2 separate regions of the Homo sapiens genome follow, and region 2 is linked to region 1. A link means that fine-mapping ties the variant in region 1 to the expression of a gene that starts in the linked region. Tissue or cell type: whole blood. Region 1 holds a variant in brackets; the other region holds the start of a gene. All regions are shown on one strand. Distances are between the middles of the regions.

Region 1 (8,000 bases):
AGATTCCTTTCCTCACATGTTTTCTTGCTGACCTTCTCCCCACTATCACCCTGCTCTCCTGCCGCATTCCTCTTGCTGAGATAGTGAAAACAGTAATAAATACTGAGGAAACTCAGAGACCAGTGTTGGTGCGGGTCCTCCATATGCTGAGCACTGGTCCCCTGGGCCCACTTTTCTTTCTCTATACTTTTGTCTCTGTGTCTTCTTTCTTTTCTCAGTCTCTGGTCCCACCTGACGAGAATTACCCACAGGTGTGGAGGGGCTGGCCCCCTTCATTCAGTAAAGATAGCTGTTTATTTAACACAGCATTTCTCCAACATCTGACAACCAAACCTTTTTTTTCTACAAGCACTCCTTAAAATGTTGTAGAAAGTGAACTTTAGAAACGCTCTTAAGTTTTTCCTAAATGAAATGATTATACTCTATTTGAAAAAATTCTGACAATTTACCTTGCCAAGTTGCTGTAGAAATTTCAAATGTCTCTCTTCAAACTGTGTAGGATCCCGGTCTTCAAAGGCACCAGAAAACCCCAGGGCACCTATCCTCATATTTGGTAACATGTCATTTTCTGTTAATAGTTCATAATCTGGAGAAATAAAGAATATTATCACCTTAAATTAGCAAATAACATTCTCTGGACTAAACTGATATACATTCAAGTTGACCAAAATAATCGTGAGTTAAAAATACTAAATGATACAGGGAAACTCAAATAGTTTCAATTATATTAATGGGAGCCTTTAATCATTACCCATAATCTGACAGGCCTTCAAGAGAGACTTTGCAAAGGATAAAATTTTGTTTTCCAAAATAAGAAGTTTTAGTATTCATAAAGTAAGGTAATATACTGATACTTATTGTGAGAAAGGTGAGTAGTACTGGGGTAGAAAGCACCTATAGGTCAAACACATGCATTTCAGCTCAGTATTTTGAAAAAGGAGAGAACAAAGCAAAACAAATACAGCTCATGTTTAGAGAATCAATCAATTATAAAATATGAGAAATGTTAAAGAGAATTGTTTTTTAAAAGTCAATTTAAGCAAAAAAAAAATACTATAATTTACAACTCACTAAATGGAAAACTAAAATTAGGTTACTGAAAGAAAAGGTCTTTTTGGCTGGGAGCGGTGGCTCAAGCCTGTAATCCCAGCACTTTGGGAGGCCGAGGCGGGCGGATCACAAGATCAGGAGATCGAGACCATCCTGGCTAACACGGTGAAACCCCGTCTCTACTAAAAATACAAAAAATTAGCCGGGTGTGGTGGCGGGCGCCTGTAGTCCCAGCTACTCAGGAGGCTGAGGCAGGAGAATGGCGTGAACCTTGGAGGTGGAGCTTGCAGTGAGCCGAGATCGCGCCACTGCACTCCAGCCTGGGCGACAGAGTAAGACTCCATCTCAAAAAAAAAAAAAAAAAAAAAGAAAAGGTCTTTTTATAAAAATGAAAATAATTCTCAGTCAAGGAGATTAGAATATGTATAAAGCATGAAAAGCCATATGAACATAAGAAATTAAGAGGGCCCAAATGACATCAAGAAAATGTTTTAAAGGAATTAAAAATTAGTAATGATTCATTAAATACAATAAAGATAGAAAGCTGGAAAATCAATAAGATCATTCAAATACATACCTGGAGTAAACAAACTGTTAAGATCTCGTATGATGGCTCTGAAAGAAGGCCTGAAATCTGGTTCATAATCCATACAATTATTTATAAGGTTTGCTAATTCTGCCCACTTTGGTGCAGGAAGCTGATGCCTATCTTCATAAAATTGTAGCTTCTATAATTAAAGAACCACAAACTGAGAATAAATTGTGTAATGCCACACCAACCTTCTTTTTAAAATTAGATGGGCTAAAAAATACAAATCATGTGAAAGAAATATGAAAGTTCAGAGATAGAGTAATTCTAACTTAGTCTATATAAACTTACTCTTTGAGAATCCAGAGCACTTAGAGGTTTATCTCCTCCACTGCAGATTTCCCACAAAGTGGTACCAAAACTCCATTTGTCTGTTGCCAAATTTAAATTTTTAGGATTTTCAATGCATTCAGGTGGTACCCATGGTATTCTCTCCTGAAGAACTTTTAAATGATACGAACAGAGTAGGGTTAAATAATTCACAAGTAAACCAATCTTTTATATGTAAATAGCTTTAAAGTTCAAATCATTTGAATAATCAGGCCTATTTTCTTTATTTTGGAGGGGTTGGATGTGCACATGCACATGACTGCATAAGCTTAAGAACCAGAAGGGACCTTCAAGATCATCTAATTCAATATTTCATCTTTAACAATGACAACATGGAGACATATGATTGAGTAATCTGCCCAAAGCCACACAATTTGTTAGCAGCAGAGACAGAATTAGAATCCTGTACAGTGAGTTCTGAATCAACTAATCTTTCCATTAAACCATAGTGTCTCAACTGGCATACCATTTTCTCAACCTCTTTCCATTAGTTTTACCTTCAAAAAAAAAAAATTTTTTTTTTGAGACAGGGTGTCACTGTGTCACTCAGGCTAGAGTGCAATGGCACGATTGCAGCTCACTATGCTTTGACCTCTTGGGCTTAAGTGATCCACCCAAGCGCTTTAGGAAGCAATCAGCCTCCCAAAGCATTGGAATTACAGGCATGAGCCACTGCACCTGGCCAAATCTTTTTTTTTTATATAGTTTATCCTAAAATTGCCCCATGATACTTTTTGGTATTTCTTCATAATGCGTAAGTAGTAAAGGTAATGTTACATCATTCAGAGATGTTCTAATGATTTAATAGCCATGGCAATTCCCACTTGCAGATAAAAAAAAAAACCCAAGGACCAACAAGCATTTATGGCAGATGGAAGGCTAAATTGCACCAAAATATTCTAGATATATGGAATTGATATAGGTGGGCTCTGCTCAAATCACGGAATTTCTCAAGTAAAGTTTCTGTGGTCTTTGATTCCACCAGAAGGACTGTATTCAAGAAAGGAAGAAGCAATATAACCCTACTTTCTGGTATTCTGACATAGACAGACAGACAAATAGATTGATTGACAAATACCTTCACCATATGAATACATTTTTTTCCATCTTCACTTCCGATTCCAAAGGATAAAATTTTCCAGGATACCAGATGTAAGACCCTGTAAGAATTTTCTGCCATACTCC[C/A]TACTCCTGTACTACTGCCCAGTTATCACTGTCTTCACTGTCAGATAAGTCATTAAGTTTAAGTACTATTAGCTTAAATAGGACACATCAGTGCACAAAAATTGATCAATTTAGAATCTAAATTTAGAACATCCAATTAGAGAAATTATCTAAGATAACAAAATTCAGTTATAATTATCTAGACCCAAAAAACCCCTCTCAACTATCTGACTGAAATTTGTATTTTTAACCCACTGTGTTAAGTAGTAAAGATGAACAAACACAAATCAAAGTTTTTTTAAGGTTTTAAAAAGTCAGAATTAGCTGGATAATTAAACTAATTTCTTCACAGAGGATAGAAAAAAATCCTAAAATCTCAGGCTAAATTTTTATTTAGTGACGAGAAGAAAAGAATATTTAGAAAATTTACTTGTGGCTCAAGGAATATTACAAAACTTCATACTAAAAATGGATAAAATCCTATCCTTCATACATAATTAGAGATTAAAACTGTTTTTAAAAAATCACCTCACAGTCCATGGTTATATGCTTATAAGAAAGAAAAATAGAGACTAAGATTTAACTAACAATTTAAATTGCTAAAAGTGATAATTTTATTATTAATCAGGAACATACAAATTAAATGGAATTCAAGGAAAATTAACAACATGCCCTTTACACCACTGCCCAAGTAAAGCTTAGTAACATTATATATAATCCTTCTAGAACTTACTGTCCTTTGGCAAAACTGTAATACTAATGCCAGGATCACTAAGTTTGATGAAAGGAGGATTTCCTGTCTTCCTGTCTTCTTCTCTGATAAGCAGAATATTTTTGGCACATACATTCCCATGAATAAGGGTGTTTTCTTCCTATTAGAGTTAAACGCACATATATTCAAATATCAGTCCACAAGTACTGGAGCATTTAGTATGTTCAAGCCCCCAAAACAGATTTAAAGAAGAAAAATACATGATAGTATAATAATTTGGAGGCATGCATTGAGAAAAAAGGAAATTTATGACTCCTATGCTTCCTGTTTTACATTTTAAATAACACAATAATCTATGCTTGTGATGAAATGAATAAATTAAAACTACCAATGCCATTTCACATGAGTTCTAAGGCTGACATGGTTTGTGTTTCTGGATGGGAGCTGACATTAAGAAATACTACTTCAGTTCTGCAGCAGGACATAGGTGCACCCTGAGGGGTCTGATGACTGGCAGTCCCCCTGGTATTCTTCTCTGTCAACACCGCTTTCTCATGGACCATAATGTACAATGGCCCAAAAATACAGAAGCACATACTTCTGCATAATTTTTGGTTGAATTTTCTAAATCCAAAAGACACAACATACAGATTGTCTATTAGTAGTTCTAAGATATTGATGGGATGACAAAACTTTTTTTTCAAAAGTGATTTTACATACATAAACATATGCCTAAAGTAATCTCTTTTTATCACCTAACACAGACTATTTTACATGAATTGGCATCCAATTACAGATTTATTTTTTGTTTCCAGGTAAAGATAATTTGTATATTGTTTTATAAAATAAAATAGTATCTTTTGATAAAAAGGTTGTACTACTTACTAGAAAATGCATGGCCCATGCCAACTGTTTAGCAACTTCAAGTTTCCATAATATATTTATACAATTTTTATTCTTTTTCAGATATGTATCTAGTGATCCAAATTTTACAAACTCCTGAACCAGAATATCTGCATTAAAATATAAGTAATAATAATAAGGCTTAAGTATAAATATAATTAAATATATGTAATTTAAATCTTTATACTTACATGTGACCATTATAGGTAAAGAAATTAAATTGGCAAAACTCACAACTTTAAAGAAAACTTAATGGATACACAGCATTATATTTTTGGTTTTTAGTTTACTTACAACAGCAAGAGTAGGAGTCTAAACAATTATATATTATTATATATAACATAAATGTATAATATATAATATACCAGCACACCTTTATATATTAGTACTGAATTATGGCTGGTTTTTAAAAATAAATGAAAATTTCTCAATTTCTCTTCCACATAACTTTTTAGACATTCAAACCTTCCTGAAGTTCTTCTACACACAAAAATTACTAACAATTGTCTATAGTACTATAGACATAAAGGAGAATTTGAGTTCTAGCTCCATTTAATCTTTTAATTCTGCAAAAAATACAGAAATGTTTTGCGCTGCTTTATCTTTAAAACTTTTTTAAAAAAATATATAAAACATATTTTGCCAGAAAAACAAGTGTTGGCTTCCAAAAACAATCCTGGATTCCTTCATGGTCCACAGGAGCCTCTCAGATACCTCCATATAACAGGTTCCAAACCACTGCTTTTGAGAAGATTATCAATTTTCAAAGATATGAAAAAATGTCATACAAGTGTAGATGTGTATTTAATCTGCATTACTAGTGGAAAATAGGGAATTATATAAACAATTTTCTTGAATGTAAACTTTGTGAGGCACTAAAATAAAGGCATACCTCGAAGATATTACCAGTTTGGTTTTAGACTACCATAATAAAGCAAGTCATGAATTTCTTGGTATCCCAATGCATATAAAACTTGTATATACACTATAATGGAGTCTATTTAGTGTGCAACAGCGTTATATCTTAAAAAAAACAAAGAATATATCTTTTTAAAAATACTTTATTGCCAAAAAAGGTGCTAATGATAATCTGAGCCTTCAGAAAGTTGTAATCTTTTTGCTTGATGTTAATCGCTGCTGACTGATCATGGTGGTGGCTGCTTAAAGTTCAGGTAGCTGTGGCAGTTTCTTAAAATAAGACAACAATGAAATTCACTGCAGACTCTTCCTTTCATGAAAGATTTCTCTGTAGCATGCAATGCTGTTTGATAGCCTTCTACCCACAGTAGAACTTTACAGGGTCAGTCCTCTCAAACCCTGCAACTGCTTGATCAATCAAGTTTATGTAAAATTCCAAACCCTTTGTTGTCATTTCACAATGTTCACAGCATCATCACTAGGAGTAGATTCCATCTTAAGAAACCACTTTCTCTGCTTATCCATAAGAAGCAACTCCTCCTTCTTTCAGGGCTTATCGTGAGATTGTAGCAATTGAGTCACATCTTCAAGCTCCACTTCTTAGTTCTCTGTTTCCACCATCTCTGCAGTGACTTCCTTCATTAAAGTACCATATCCCTCAAAGTCATCCAGGAGGGTTAGAATGAACTTTTTCCAAATTCCTATTAATGCTGCCATTTTGATCTCCTTCCATGAACCATGAATGCTATTCCTGGCATCTAGAATGGTGAATCCTTTCCATAAGTTTTTCTACTTACTTTACCCAGATCCACCAGAGGAATCACTATCTATGGCAGCTTAGCCTTACAAAATGTATTTCTTAGATAATAAGACTTGAAAGTTGAAATAACTCCTTGATCCATGGGCTACAGAATGGATGTTGTGTCACCAGGCCTGAAAATAACATGAATATCCTTGTACATCTCCATCAGAGCTCTTGGGTGACCAGGTGCATTGTCAATGATCAGTAATACTTTGAAAGCAATCTTTTTTTCTGAGCAGGTCTCAACAATGGGCTTAAAATAGTCAATAAACCATGCTATAAACAGATGTGCTGTCATCTAGGCTTTCTTGTTCCATGTATAGAGCACAGGCAGAGTAGACTTAGCATAATTCGCAGAGCCCTGGGATTTTTGGAATGGTAAATGAGCGCTGGTTTGAATTTCAAATCACCAATGGCATTGGCCCTTAGCAAGAGGGTCAGCCTGTCCTTCGAAGCTTTGAAGGCAAGCACTGACTTCTCCTCTCTAGCTGTGGAAGTCCTAGATGGCATATTCTTCCAACAGAAGGCTGTTTTGTTTACATTTGAAAATCTGTTTGTTAGTGTCACCATCTTCATCAATGGTCCTTGCTAGATCTTCTGGATAACTTGCTGTAGCTTCCACATCAGCATTTGCTGCTTCACCTTGCACTTATGCTGTGCACATGGCTTCTTTTCTTAAACCTCATGAACCAACCTCTGCTAGCTTCCAACTTTTCTTCTGCAGCTTCCTCACCTCTCTCAGCCTTCATAGAATTTAAGAGCATTAAGATCTTGCTCTAGATTGGGCTTTGGCTCAAGGGAATGTTGTGACTGGTTTGATCTTCTATCTAGAACTTTCTCTGTATCATCAATAAGACTGTTTCACTTTCTTGTAATTTATGTGCTCACAGGAGTAGCACTTTCAGTTTCCTTCAAGGACTTTTCCTTTGGATTCATAACTTGCCTTTTTAGTGCAAGAGGCCTAGCTTTCAGCTTGTCTTGGCTTTCAGCATGCCTTCCTCTCTAAGCCATCTTCATCAATGGTCTTTGCTAGATCTTCTGGATAACTGCTGCAGCTTCCACATCAGCGTTTGCTGCTTCATTTCTAGCTTTCCATTTAAAGTGAGAGACGGGTGAATCTTCCTTTCACTTGAACATTTAAAGACCATTGTGTGATTATTAAATGGCCTAATTTTAATATTGTTGTCTCAGGGAATAGGGAGGCCCCAGGAGAGGGAGAGAGACAGAGGAATGGCTCATTGATGGAGCAGTCAGAGCACACACTGCATTCATCTATGAAGTTTGCCTTCTTATATTCTCTCTGTTTGGGACACCCCAGAATAATTACAATACTAGCATTAAAGATTACTGATCACAGATCACCATATGATTTTTTTAAAGTTTGAAATGTTGCTAGAATTACCAAAATATGACACAGAGACATGAAATGAGCACATGCTGTTGGGAAAATGTTGCTGACAGAGTTGCTAGACACTGGGTTGCCGTAAACCTTCAATATGTAAAAAATACAATATCTAAGAAGCACAATAAAG
Region 2 (8,143 bases), 94 kb after region 1:
AAAAACCAGGAAGTGACTAGTACAACAAGTTAGCAATAGGATTAGTTTTAAAATGAAAGAACTGGGCAGAAGTTATAAACATATTACATAGGAGAGGAAATATATTAAGCCATGATCAGCTGGTACTAGCTTTATATCAATAATTTTATCAGAAAAGCAAACTAAAAGCTAAGGCAGAGGTTTCCAAACCCATTCAGGGAGCTCTGAGTCTTAGCAAATTTTTCACGACACCCCCAGGCCAAAAGAAATAGGTTTGAACAACTTACTTAGTAGTTATGTCCTTACAACTTAGTGTAGAGCACTGTAGAACTTATCAAACCTTAGAATCAAATTGGACAATACCACACTGTCATTTCCTGTTCTACATTCATTTTCATGTAGTAGTTGCTTTTTATCGGAGCAACCTCTGAAAATACATCTTTACAAAGACATGACATTGTAGAAACGGGTGTAGGTATCTAATATTGAAACCATGAACCAACTCAAAACACAAGTTCAAGCCTGAGGTGCTCTGGGCACCTTGGCACACAGTTTGGGAAACTGGGAGCTAAGAGGAGGGGTCTAAAAGGGAGTGGGGAAGGGTGGGAAATGTAATGGGAGAAGAGCAAAAGAAAGGTCTTAGCACAGTTAACCACAAGGGGGCAGCACAATAATTGGTAGGGGCAACACAATGGGGGTTTAAGCAGAGACACAAAGTCAAACCTTTCCATACAAAGGCTGTAATACTCCCTCACCAGTTTAAGACCTTGAAGTCCTTTATCTCTTTATACTAGAAAGGAGGAAACACGAGTTACAGGCAGATCACCTTATGCAGTCATTCTGCCCTTCTCTGAATCTCCTTTGCCTCCCAGCCGTGATAGTAGCCAAGACTTTTATGACAGCCAGGCAGTTTACCACTTTGCATGTGTCTTACTCACTTCTCACAACAATCTTATAAGAAAGTGAAGCTAAAAGAGTCGTAAATAATATAACTCTTTTTTTCTTTCTTTTTTTTTTTTTTTTTAGACAGAGTCTTGCTGTGTTGCCCAGCCTGGAGTGCAGTGGTGAGATCTCGGCTCACTGCAACCACCACTTCCCAGGTTCAAGCAATTCTCCTGCCTCACCCTCCCGAGTAGCTGGGATTACAGGTGTGCACCACCACGCCCGGCTAATTTTTGTATTTTTAGTAGAGATGGGGTTTCACCATGTTGGCCAGGCTGGTCTCAAGCTCCTCACCTCAAGTGATCCTCCTTCCTCAGCCTCCCAAAGTGCTGGGATTACAGGCGTGAGCCACCATGACCAGCCGTAAATAATGCAACTCTTAAGTGGCAAGAACACCAGGATTCAAATCCAGATCTCACTCCAAAGCCAATGCACTTTCCTATTCTGCCTCAAAAGCATCCCACCTTTCAGTAATAGCCAGGTGAAAGAGAAACAATGTCATATTCCCTTCCCATATCTGAGACACCTGTCTCAAATCACCAAAGGCACACACACACAAAATTCCCTAATGAGTCCCTAAAACTGCTATAAATTGCAAATACAGGATATTCAGTTAGAGCAAAAACAAGCATGGTGTGCTCTTCTGGCCAGCAAGTACTGCAGCTTTCCTATTCAGGTAAATACATGTACTATTAAGGCAAGTGCTGGATACATCCAGTCTGTACATACGTTACACACCAACAGACAAATGCATGTACAAGCAAATAATTCTCACACTTAAAGTGGTATAAGGTGAGGCGGATGGGGGAAGGGAGGCCAAAAATTGATTATTCATCTTCAAATGTTCTGGGTGTTATATCAAAATACAAGCTGATCATCCCTTATCTGAAAAGCTGCAAAATCTGAAACATTTTGAGCACCAACATGATGCTACAAGGGGAAAATTCCCCGCATAGGTACTTAATACAAACTTTGTTTCATGCACAGACGTATTAAAAATATTGCAAATGACTTAGTGGCTGTGTGAATAAGGTCTATATGAAACAAACGAATTTCGTATTTACACTTGGGTCCCATCCTCAAGATGTCTGATTTTGTATATGCAAACATTCCAAAATTTTTAAAAAAAATCCAAAACACTTTTGGTCCCAAGCATTCTGGAGAAGGGATACAAAATCTTTATTTGCAGTAGCCCAACAACTCACTGTACAAACTTATTATGAAACCAAAAGCAATCATTTCCCTTATTCCCACTTCCAGTTTCCTTCTCCATACTCAGCCGCTCCTACCCTTTCATTCAGAGAAATGGAGTTTCTCCTAACAGATTAGTAATTACTGGAAAACAAACTGGGTAAATTCAACCGACACAGCAAGCTTAGGCAGATAAAACCATGAGGAAACATTCAATGTGGTAGCAGAAACCCCAGCAAGAATAGCTAACGTGTTCTCCCAAAAGCTATCTCTTATTGCTTGGAAATACTCCTCTTTAAAGGATTAAGAATCTCTGGCTGCTTAAGAAGAAAGGGTAATGGACAACGTTTTTCGTTTCTCTGCAAAGTCACGTTATGTGTAAAGCCAACAAAAAAATGTTTCTTAAAGGATCCAAGACGAACAACAAAACACCCCAAAATTACTCTCCCAGATCAACATTAAAAGTTTAGCACTGACATTTTCAGAAGAGTAAGCAACAATGAGCCCTGCCTCTCTTCACACGCTTCCAACCTTCCCTACGCACGCACTCCCAGCTCCAGACACCTTCGCCTTTACTGCAGCGATAAAGGACAGCACACCCACCGTCGCGGGAGGAGGAGGAAGAGCCTCTTTTTCTGCAGAAGAGAAACAGTTCACATCTTGTTCCTGTTGCCTGCTTCTGAAACCTAAAAACAGAAGCAGCAGTTAACTACTACCACATAAATCCAGGGGAAACAAATGCTTTTTCTAGGCTGTTTAAGTGTCTAGAAAATTTTAAAAAGGAATAAGGAGGCGGGAGCGAGGGAATTATAAGACACAAATGGAAGCAAATATCACCAGCAAGACTCGTTCTAGGTGTCGTCTTAAAGAGGAAGATTTTTCTGGCTCAGAAGTTTGCTGCCACTAGCAGGGGGCAGGCGGGACCAAAAGGTAGGAAGGGGGTGGAGAGACAGCTGCTGCCCCCCACCCAGAAGCCAGGCAGAGATAACACCCACCGGCTACACAGATCGGGCGACCAGAGCGCGCCCTCGAGCCCGCAGGGGCGGCTCCTACCCGGCGGGTCAAGGTCTGCGAAGCCCCGGGACGGGCACGGCTCTGAACGACCTCCAGGCTGGGCCCTCGGGGGCCCTCCAGTGTGGGCTCAGCTCCCACTCACATCCCTCGGCAGCGAGGACCAGGCCTCTCCCTGCGCCGCAGCAGCCCTCAGCCCCGACGCGCGCCGCAAGCCCGGGCCGAGGGGCCCGACCGGCCGAGAAGCCGAAGTGGCGACGCGAACACCCAAGCGAGCCGGGCGCCGGCCCAGCCTGTCAGCGCCGAGGGAGGCCGTTAGCGGCGTCCGCTGCTGCCCCCTTCTGCTCCTCTTCCTCTCTCCTTCCTGCAGCCCCACACCACTCCCACTTCGGGCAGCCGGGAAGCCCGTCACAGTTGTCTCCACCCTCTCCGGGGCCACACCGTCTTCTCAACGCCGCGGGCGACACTGGCTTCGCCGCCCTGCTAGCTTCGAACTCAGCCTCCCGGTTGGCCTGCAGTCTCCCCGAATGGCAGGAGACCGGGCCGGATAGAGGCTGGGGGAGAGCCGGACGCGCGTCCTGCAGTGCGCGTGCGCCGCTCGGTGCTGGTCGCGGGACCGGCAGGCGCGGGCCACGCAGGGCAGCTGCCTCTCGGGAAGCCGGCGAGCGCGCGTGGAGATTCCTGGGACGGCCCCTGGGCGTGAGCGCGCAAGGAAGTTAAGGCGGCGGCGCCTCGCGAAACGCTGGTGCCCGGCTGGAGCTAGGCGCCAGCGCTGGGCCCGGCCCTCACTAGATGGGCGGGTGTGTGTGTGGCCGCCGCCCTCCAGGGAAGCGGCCGGGAGTGACTCACCCTGGCTGGCTCCCCAGCGCGCAGCCTGCACTGGAGGAGGCCGGGCTGCCTCCGCGCGGAGACTCCCCTCCCGCACACTTCTCCGCTTTCGGCTTTTCCTTCCACCTCCCGGGTACAGCAGACCCGTCCTTCCCCAGTCCAGGCTGCTAGGCCGAGGGGAAGTGGCGCCGGGGGCCGGGGACAACGCGCTCACACACGCTGTTTCGTGGCAATGCGCCCTCGAGAGCCTGACTCCCATCAGCCACCTTGGCTGGAAAGGGGTGAGGGTGGGATGAAGCGCCCAGCCGCCTGCGGGTTGGCAACAAGGCCTAGCGAATGTTTCTCCTAGAGGAGAAACAACTTTACCGGCGTGGCCTGGTGTAGCCCGGGAGAGGGTGGAGACAACGGCTGTGACGGGCTTCCCGGCTGCCAAAGGGCCTCATTCATTCATTCAAATATTTACTGAGTGTCTACTAGGTGCCGGGCTGTAGGTCCCCAGAGATACCAGGTGAACACGACCCCACACACTCCTTGCCCTACTGGATTGTATTCTGATGGAAGCGACAAAACAACAAACAACGCTTTAAATGCATAATGTGCGGGGTGTGTAATTGCCACTAAGAAAATGCATAGTTTTCTGCTGCCATATACATAATAACAAAGAAAAGGAGTAGAAAGTGAGGAGGGGGTGTGCTATTTTACGGTGGCCAGGAACGATTTCCTAGAATAAGTGACATTTGAGCAGAGATCTGAAGGATGAGAATGAACCAGTCCCATGACTATCTGGGAAAAGAATTTCAGGCAGAGGGACTCCTGAAGGCAAAGACCTTGAGAAGGGAAAGTGTTTGGCAAGTTCAAGGATCAGGAAAGAGGTCACTGTGGCTGGAGGACACGGAAGGAGGGGGCAGTGGTAAGAGGTGAGGCCAAAGAAGTAGCCTGGCACCAGATCGTGTAGGGATTTTTTTCAAGTATTAGCCCTCTTTCTGTCAACCTAAATGAAGTGACGCATTCATAGCTCCTGTTTCCCCATACACAACTGATGCTGCTCTTCAGGTCTGTCTTGCACTTAATGGTTTCTTTAAATAAACCTCACCAAAGCAACTCCTGCATTTCTTCTTACATAAGACCCATTGCAAAAGGTCTTTAAGCAAATGATAGCAGCATAGGAAATTACTTGAATTCACCCTGAATCTTTTAAATAATGAACTAGAGCTGTATAAGAGGGAGGGATTTACAGGAAAATTGCATTCCTACGGCTACTGCTTCATAGGTAATATATGGGCAAAGTTAGTAAGAATTTCTAATTATTAATTGTGACTCAATGGCTTAGAATATCAAGGCCGCAATTACAAACAGTGACTACCAAAAGAGTTCCTTTTTTCCTGCAAACAAAAACTGCTACTGAGGTAAAAGCTAGAACACAGACCCACATAATGAAGAAGAGCTAAAGATGAGCTTAACGTCATGGGTAAATGAAAAGCATCACAACTGTGGAAATGGAAATGTGATATTTTGTGAGGGGAAGAAAATGCTTGTTTTAGAACTCTGAAACAGTATTACTTTCATTATAAGTGATGTTTCTATATTTTGCAGTGATATACTTATGTAACTAGGCATGGTATCTCTTACTGTCCACAGCCTGTTTGCAGGGAGAAGCCATTTGAAATTGGTGAATTGCAGGGAGAAGCCATTTGGAAGTGGTGAATATTGAGGATATTTTTGTGGGGGAGCAGGTTATTTTCTTAATATTAGAGATGTGGGTATGGAAGACAAGGTGGACAAGGGGTATATTATTCATAAGCCTATAGAATTGAGAAATCTTCTGTCTCCCCACATAGAAAGATGAAGCAACTTGCCTCCTGTCATTCAGAAAGTGAAAGCCTCCCTCATCACTAAGACATGATTTTAAGTCAATGCTAACCTGGAATGTTGAGCTTTTTTCACTCTGTATTAACAGAACTTTTGAGCTCTTTATGTGATTCCTGGTAGTGGCATCACTAGAAATTTGCTACTCAAGGCAAACATTTCAGGAAATTTCCCTTATTCTTTGATAATGATGAAAAGAATTCCAAGGAATTTGACCAAGTCTTTCAAAACATTCATACAATATGAAGAAACAAGAAATATGAGCTGTAAGGTAACACATTTAGATTCAAAACTTTGTGGCAAGATCTAATGGGAAAACTTAACAGCTAGTTGTTGACTGTGGGGCTGTGTGTAGTGTCTTGAGGTTTTGTCCTTCCAGTGTTGGCCAGCATGGCAGCAGTGATTCTTGACTGCTATGCCCAAACCTTCCCCCCACCCCAACAAGACTGCCTCAGTAAGTGTGAGATGGCGCATTGGCTTCTATAACTTTTTAACATTTTTAGGTGGTTTGACATAAAGCCACGGTTGAAAATCCATGGCCAAGGGTTTAAGAACTTACGCTTTAAGAGTCCAGACCACCCAGGTTTCTTTCAATCACAGCTTTTGCCAGGAAAGTTTATTTAGATTTTCTAAGCCTCTGTTTCCTCATCAGTATAATGAGGATAATAATCTCCCCTGTAGAGAGATTTTGAAGATTAGGTGAAAAAGTATTTTAAAACCCTTAGCACAGTTATCAAATGTCTATTATATCTGTGGCAGGACCAATTTACAGATATAACCAAGCTGGGAGGTATAAGAAATTTGTTGAATTTTATTAGGAAGATTGAAGTATTTGTCACAGTTTATTGCACTACACAGGACTGTGTGGGCTGGTAGGATAAGGGCTGAGTTGTAATAGAGATAAATGTGAAGATCTCCATTTGAATTTTAAAAAACAGAACTATATCATTAAATGATGAGACTGAAAACATCATTCTTAAGGAGGGACATAAATGTGAGCACAAAAAAAGATGCAGGAAAGTCCTTGGAAAGGGAAACAGGCTCAAACGAAGGGCTGGGGAGAAGTCCAGGAGTTAGTTTGTTTCTTTCCAAAACAGGGAAGATGTACTTTCCTGAAGGCAGAAAGGAATAAAATATGGAAAGAGGCTTATTTATTCCAAATGTAGGATTATAAGCCAAAAGACAAAGGCAAGGGGTATTAATCAAGTAGACAGACAAGCAAGCAATGTTTTTTTTACTACAAATCATCCAGATATTTTAGTACCATTTATTCCAAAATTTGGTTGGCTATGGCAAAGAAATTTTCCAATACCTCCTCGGTACTTCAGCATGTCCTTGTCTCTACATCAGTTCCCTTATCCTTACTTTCAATCACAAAAAGAAAAGGAAAACAAAAAAGATATTGCCAGTGAACAGATCCCTCATTCCCTTGAGATAACTGGATGTATTAAACTTTGGTGCTTGAAAACCAAAACAGTTTTCCCTTTGTAAGCCAAGAATTAATAACCTCTTTCAAGTGAGGATAATTATTTGGCAAAATATGTAAAATGACCATTATAACTATGTGCTACTTTTAAAAAATTTAACTTAAAACTGTTAGACATATAGTTGCCTATTCACGAAAAACATTTTTTGTGTGTGTGAAAGGATTCATGCCAGCATTCACTCTTAAAAACAAAATTTCGGCCAGGCGCAGTGGCTCACACCTGTAATCCCAGCACTTTGGGAGTCCAGCGTGGGTGGATCACAAGGTCAGGAGATCAAGATCTCCTGGCTAACATGGTGAAACCCTGTCTCTACTAAAAATACAAAAAATTAGCCAGGCATGGTGGCATGTGCCTATAGTCCCAGCTACTCAGGAGGCTGCGGCAGGAGATTCACTTGAACCTGGGAGGTGGAGGTTGCAGTGAGCCGAGATCATGCTACTGCACTCCAGCCTGGGCAACAGAGCAAGACTCCCATCTCAAAAAATAAAATAAAATAAAATAAAAAATAAAAATAAATCCCTAGCATAATTGTTAGTTTACAGAGACTCAGAGACTTAATTCCTGAGTCCTAATTTAGACTAAGGATTCTGTCCTCTTTGCTGAGAACTGTCCTCTTCACCCAGAGTAGCCAGCCTCTGGCACCTACGTTCTAGTTTGTGACACCCTGCTTCCCACAACCCCTTGATTGGACCAAGCTGAGCCATCAGAGTCTCACTCCTGGGGAATTTGGAGTTGGGATTCAAAAACAGCAAATCAGACTTTTCTGTTCACTTGAAATGAGGTTACCCATGCTCTAAAGTTAAGGCTGCCACTATGAGGTTACCATCTTCATTCTTGCA

The links. PIP is the estimated chance that this variant, and not a neighbour inherited with it, causes the effect.
Region 2: JAK2 starts here. The variant in region 1 is fine-mapped to the expression of JAK2 in whole blood (TOPMed, PIP above 0.99).

Annotation. Positions count from the first base shown.
Region 1 is chr9:5,074,311-5,082,310 of GRCh38, reverse strand. It overlaps JAK2 (Janus kinase 2), which reads right to left. Exons shown (of 25, transcript NM_004972.4): 15 at 4,731-4,858; 16 at 3,867-4,005; 17 at 1,931-2,082; 18 at 1,628-1,778; 19 at 450-586. It also overlaps a transcript of INSL6 not described here. Among named protein-coding and RNA genes, the nearest start is that of JAK2, 93 kb to the right of the region's middle. The variant C/A (reference allele first, on the strand shown) is at 3,155.
Region 2 is chr9:4,980,595-4,988,737 of GRCh38, reverse strand. JAK2 (Janus kinase 2) reads right to left here and starts at 3,466. Exons shown (of 25, transcript NM_004972.4): 1 at 3,108-3,466; 2 at 2,716-2,798. RefSeq lists enhancers at 2,664-2,713, 3,514-3,653, 3,582-4,415 and silencers at 3,044-3,373, 3,764-3,843, 3,884-3,933, 5,384-5,513.